2 separate regions of the Homo sapiens genome follow, and region 1 is linked to region 2. Evidence: fine-mapped expression QTL. A gene starts in region 2. The other region holds a variant in brackets. All regions are shown on one strand. Distances are from middle to middle. Region 1 has its middle 2.0 kb from the start of HYOU1-AS1. Region 2 holds the start of VPS11 (VPS11 core subunit of CORVET and HOPS complexes).

Region 1 (2,909 bases), 25 kb before region 2:
CCACTCACTGCAACCTCTGCCTCCCAGGTTCAAATGATTCTCCTGCCTCTGCTTCCCAAATAGCTGGGATTAAATCGCCTGCCACCAAGCCCGGCTAATTTTTGTATTTTTTAGTAGAGACTGGGTTTCACCATGTTGGCCAGGCTGGTCTCGAACTGCTGACTTCAGGTGATCCGCCCGCCTCGGCCTCCCAAAGTGCTGGGATTACAGGTGTGAGCCACTGCGCCCGGCCGGGCCTGGCTATTTTTTATTTTTATTTTTGAGGCAGAGTCTCGCTCTGTTGCCCAGGCTGGAGTGCAGTGGCATGACCTCAGCTCACTGCAACTTCTGCCTCCTGGGTTCAAGTAATTCTCAAGCCTCAGCCTCCTAAGTAGCTGGGACTACGGGCACACACCACCACACCCGGCTAATTTTTTGTATTTTAGTAGACATGGTGTTTCGCCATGTTGCCCAGGGTGGTCTCAAACTTCAGAGCTCAGGCAATCCACTCACCTCGGCTTCCCAAAGTGCTAGGATTACAGATGTGAGCCACCATCCCTGGCCAAAATAAATATTTTAAAAATATTTGGTAGAATTCACCAGTGAAGCCATCTAGTCCCGATTTTTTTTTTTTTTTTTTTTTTTTTTTGAGACGGAGTCTTGCTCTGTTGCCAGGTTGGAGTGCCGTGGCCCAGTCTTGGCGCACTGCAACCTCTGTCTCCTGGGTTCAAGTGATTCTCCTTCCTCGGCCTCCTGAGTAGCTGGGATTACAGGTGCCCACCACCACGCCAAGCTAATTTTTGTATTTTTAGTACAGACAGGGTTTCACTGTGTTAGCCAGGCTAGTCTCAAACTTCTGACCTTGTGATCTGCCTGCCTCAGCCTCCCAAGGTGCTGGGATTACTAGCCCGAGCCACCGTGCCTGCCCCCCACCTCCCCACCCTTTTTTTTTTTGAGACAGAGTTTCGCTCTTGTCGCCCAGGCTGGTCTCAAACTGTTGACTTCAGGTGATCCGCCTGCCTCGGCCGCCCAAAGTGTTGGGATTACAGGCTTGAGGCAAGGCGCGCCGGGCCTTTTTTTTTTTTTTTTGAGTCGGGGTCTCTCCCTCCCAGGCTGCAGTGCAGTGGTGCGATCATAATCTACTGCAGCTTTGAACTCCTAGTTTCAAGTGATCCTCCTGCCTCTGCCTCCTGAGTAGCTAGGACTACTATTTTTTGTAGAGATGAGGTCTGGCTATGTTGTCTCAAACTCCTGGCCTCAAGCGATCCTTCCACTCCTGCCTCCCCAAACACTGGTATTACAGCCATGAGTCACTGCACTTAGCTTCGCCTTTTTTTTTTAGAGCACTTTTAGGTTCACAGCAAAATTGAGGGGAAAATACAGAGTTCCCGTATATTCCCTTCCTCCATACACTCACAGCTTCCCCCATAATAAACACTTCACACCAGAGGTCTACAGGTGTTACATCTGAGGAACCTACACTGACTCATCATATTTGCCCAAAGTCTACACTTTCAGTTGTCTTGGTGTTGCACATTCTATAGGTTTT[G/C]ACAAATGTATATGTACCCACCATTATGGTGTCATACAGAACTTTGGGTGATTGTAACAAATGTACCACTCTGGGGGAGATTGAGTATGTGGGGACAGGAGGTATATGGCAACTCTGTACCTCCTGCTCAATTCTGCTGTGAATCTGAAACTGTCTAAAAGTCATCCAAAAAAAAAAAAACAAAAACCCAAAACTTCCACATTCAAAACTTATCTGACTTGTTCAACTTTTAGAGAAAAAAGACAACCCTTCGTGGTTATTTTTTTTGTGTGTGACAGAGTCTAGCTGTCGCCCAGGCTGGAGTGCAGTGGCACGATCTCAGCTCACTGCAACCTCATCCTCCCGGGTTCAATTGATTTTCCTGTCTCAGCCTCCTGAGTAGCTGGGACTACAGGCGGGTGCCACCATGTCCGGCTGATTTTTTGTATTTTTAGTAGAGACGGAGTTTCACTGTGTTAGCCAGGATGGTCTCGGATCTCCTGACCTCATGATCCGCCTGCCTTGGCCTCCCAAAGTGCTAGGACTACAGGCGTGAGCTACTACACCCGGCTGGGCCTTCATGGTTATTAAATGTAAATACAACGGGGCCAAGCTCAGTGGCTCATACCTGTAATCCCAGCACTTTGGGAGGCCAAGGCAAGCAGATCATTTGAGTCCAGGAGTTCAAGACCAGCCTGAGCAACATAGTGAAACCCCGTCTCGACCAGAAAATACAAAAATTAGCCAGGTAGTCCCTGCTACAGGGCTGAGGTGGGAGGATTGCTTGAGCCTGGGAGGTCGCGGCTGCAGTGGGCCAAGATGGCACCATTGCACTCCAGCCTGGGTGACAGAGCAACACCCTGTATACCGTATACAACTGCTTAGATATGTACATGATTAGTGACAAGAGGGATCCTCCCTTGGTAATAGAAAATTTGGGCTAGGCATGCTGCATCCCAAACTGATGAACCGAAACTGCTACAAATGGTCTCTACCAACACATTCCCACGGCTAAGTACGAAGAACAAGGGCGAATGGTCAGAATTAAGCTCAAACCTAGCTGAAGCACTCAACATTGATTCATTCCTTGGACCAATTACTTGCTAAATCTCTATGAACTGGTATCTTATTTGTACAATGAGGTTGCTATTTTAAAAATTAATGTTACCAGCTGGGCCCAGTGGCTCAGGCCTGTAAACCCAGCACTTTGGGAGCCCAAGGCAGGTGGATCGCTTCAGGTCAGTTCCAGACCAGCTTAGCCAACATGGTGAAACCCCGTCTCTACTAAAATACAAAAAAAATTTAGCTGGGTATGGTGGCAGGTGCCTGTAATCCCAGCTACTCAGGAGGCTGGGGCAGTAGAATCACTTGAACCCGGGAGGCGGAGGTTGCAGTGAGCCTG
Region 2 (2,909 bases):
TGAGTTGGAAGTCAGGAAATCTGTGTGCATGGTGGTGGCTAGAGTTTCTTCCTATCATTTACCTCTTCAGACAAATGGACGCCACCTGCCCATCAACCAGATTGAGGAGAGGAGTGGATAAGAGGAGAGGCATCCACACCACATTCATTCCTTCAACCAAACATGGAACTTCTACCAGGCTCTGCTAGGCCTCGTTCACAGTTACGGTACAAGATGTAGCCCCCGCTCTCAGGGAACTCTGGCTGGTGGAAATACAGCATCAAATATTCTGAAATAAGTTGGGGGAGGGCCGGGTGCGGTGGCTCACGCCTGTAATTCCAGTACTTGGGAGGCCGAGGCGGGTGGATCACCCGAGGTCAGGAGTTCGAGACCAGCCTGGCCAAAATGGCAAAACCCCAACTCTACTAAAAATACAAAAATTAGCCAGGCGTGGTGGCAGGCAGCTGTAATCCCAGCTACTCAGGAGGCTGAGGCATAAGAATCGCTTGAACTCGGGAGGCGGAGGTTGCAGTCAGCTGAGATTGTGCCACTGCGCTTCAGCCTGGGGGATAGAGAGAGACTCTGTCTAAAAAAAAAAAAAAAAAAAAAGAAAAAAGAAAAAAAAGGAAGTTGGGGGAGTGCAAACAATAAACTTCACAAATACCACAGGGTCACTTTTCCATATGTCCCTACCATCTCAAAATGATGCTATGTCACTTCTGTCTATAGGTTCTCATGGCACACAAACAGTAAACCTGCAGTAGTTGTCCATGAGGATAGATCTTGCTTGGATTCAAAGATGGTTTAGCCAGAGTTGGGAGTGGAGAATGATCATGTAATATCTTGGACACCTGCCACTTCTCATTAAAACACTCAGCTCTCAAAGCTGCCACTTCCAGGTTTTTGCTCAGTTCTATGTCCCCTACCCTGCCACTATGAAAGGGGGAGAAAGCCCAGGGCCTTGGGAATTCCTGCCCCACCAGTATTTCCCAGTTTCCTTTTTTTTTTTTTGAGACAAGGTCTTGCTCTGTCGCCCATGCTGGAGTGCAGCGGCTCGATCACAGCTCACTGCAGCTTCCAACTCCGGGGCTCAATCGATCCTCCCACTTCAGCCTCCCAAGTAGCTGGGACCACAGGTGTCCACCACCATGCCAGGCTCATTTTTGTATTTTTTGTAGAGATGGGGTTTCACCATGTTGCCCAGGCTGGTCTCGAACACCTGGGCTCAAGTGATTCCCCCACCTCGGCCTCCCAAAGTGCTGGGATTACAGACAGGCATGAGCCATCGCGCCCAGCCCGTTTCCTTAAGAAACGTTTTGAGCGTCTGTTAGGTGTCATACGCTCTGACGGGGGAAACAAAAACGAATATAAAACATTGACTATGGTTCACAATCTGCGTGGTGGCAGACACAAACTTCTAATTTTATTTCTCCTCTCATACAGCCGAAAACCTGGTTTAACATACACTGTTTCATTTATGCCCCAAAACAGTCCTGTGAGGTCAAAACGTCATTCACTTACGCACGGCGGGTGACAGTTCACAAGGCACATGACATCCCTCATCTTGATCTCCCGGTATCCGCGCATTTTAGGAAGAAACATGCTCAAAGGGATGAAGGGTCCGCTCTCAAGCATTTTAGCTAGCGAAGTTACAGTCACATCCGGCAAACTCGCACACTGCAGATCTAGGACTACCCCGCGCGGCCCCGCCCACTTTCCCAGCAGCGGGACGCTGTCACCCCGACTCAGGAGCTCCTGGGCCCGCGGGCTCCCGGAAGCTGCCGACCACGTGATTCGCTGGCTCAGCTCACGTGACAAAGCTCCCGGAGGTGGGAGCCCTGGGCCAAAATGGCGGCCTACCTGCAGTGGCGGCGCTTCGTTTTCTTCGACAAGGAGCTGGTGAAGGAGCCGCTGAGCAATGATGGGGCCGCTCCCGGGGCCACACCTGCTTCTGGATCCGCTGCTTCCAAGTTCCTTTGCCTCCCTCCTGGCATCACTGTCTGCGACTCAGGCCGAGGGAGCCTGGTCTTTGGAGATATCCTTCGTTTGGAGCTGTCTTTTCCCTCCCGGGATCCCGAAGAGATCGAGTTAGGATGAAATCTGTTTGTCGGAGGGGTCCGTGCCGCGCGCCTCTTTGGTTTAGCTGGTCATCCAGAGTTGTTCTGTGGTCTACGGGAAGAAAGAAGGAAGTCCATCTCCTAACTTGTTATCAACTGAGCAATCCTGGGCAAGTCATTTAACCTCTCTGGGTTTTAATTTCCTTATCTGTAGGAGATGTGTGCATGCCAATTTGACGAGGTTAATTTGAGATCAATAAGAAAAAGAATGCAAGTTGGCTTTAAAAGATGAATATGTAAAGTGACATGATTTCCCCTGCCCTAATATTATCGTTGGCGAGGAGGTAAATGAGCCTAGCGGTTTGTTGCTTTCATCTTCATGTTGCTGCTACTAAATTCTGGCCTTTTTACCTTTTTTTTTTTTTTTTTTTTTTTGATACGGAGTCTTACTCTGTTGCCCAGGCTGGAGTGCAGTGGCGGGATCTGGGCTCACTGTAACCGTCTCTTGAGTTCAAGCGATTCTCCTGCCACAGCCTCCCGAGTAGCTGGGACTACAGGCGCTTGCCACCACACCCGGCTAATTTTTTACATTTTCAGTAGAGACGGGGTTTCACCATATTGGCCAGGCTGGTCTCGAACTCCTGACCTCGTGATCCACCCGCCTCGGCCTCCCAAAGTGCTGGGATTACAGGAGTGAGCCATCGCGCCCGGCGCACTAAATTTTTTTCTTTTTTTTGAGACGGACTTTCACTCTTGTTGCACAGGCTGGAGTGCAATGGCATGATCTGGGCACACTGCAACCTCCGCCTCCCGGGTTCAAGCAATTCTCCTGCCTCAACCTCCTGAGTAGCTGAAATTACAGGCACGCACCAT

Evidence for each region. PIP is the estimated chance that this variant, and not a neighbour inherited with it, causes the effect. A credible set is the group of variants that fine-mapping cannot tell apart.
Region 1: its variant is the best candidate, but not a certain one, in a credible set for the expression of VPS11 in whole blood (INTERVAL, PIP 0.55).

The regions. Positions count from the first base shown.
Region 1 is chr11:119,040,744-119,043,652 of GRCh38, forward strand. No RefSeq gene overlaps it. Among named protein-coding and RNA genes, the nearest start is that of HYOU1-AS1, 2.0 kb to the right of the region's middle. The variant G/C (reference allele first, on the strand shown) is at 1,529.
Region 2 is chr11:119,065,997-119,068,905 of GRCh38, forward strand. It overlaps VPS11 (VPS11 core subunit of CORVET and HOPS complexes), which reads left to right and starts at 1,822. Exons shown (of 16, transcript NM_021729.6): 1 at 1,822-2,014. The coding sequence starts at 1,828. It overlaps LOC124902769 (a long non-coding RNA gene), which reads right to left and starts at 1,759. Exons shown (of 2, transcript XR_007062917.1): 1 at 1,501-1,759. RefSeq lists enhancers at 1,810-1,859, 1,920-1,969.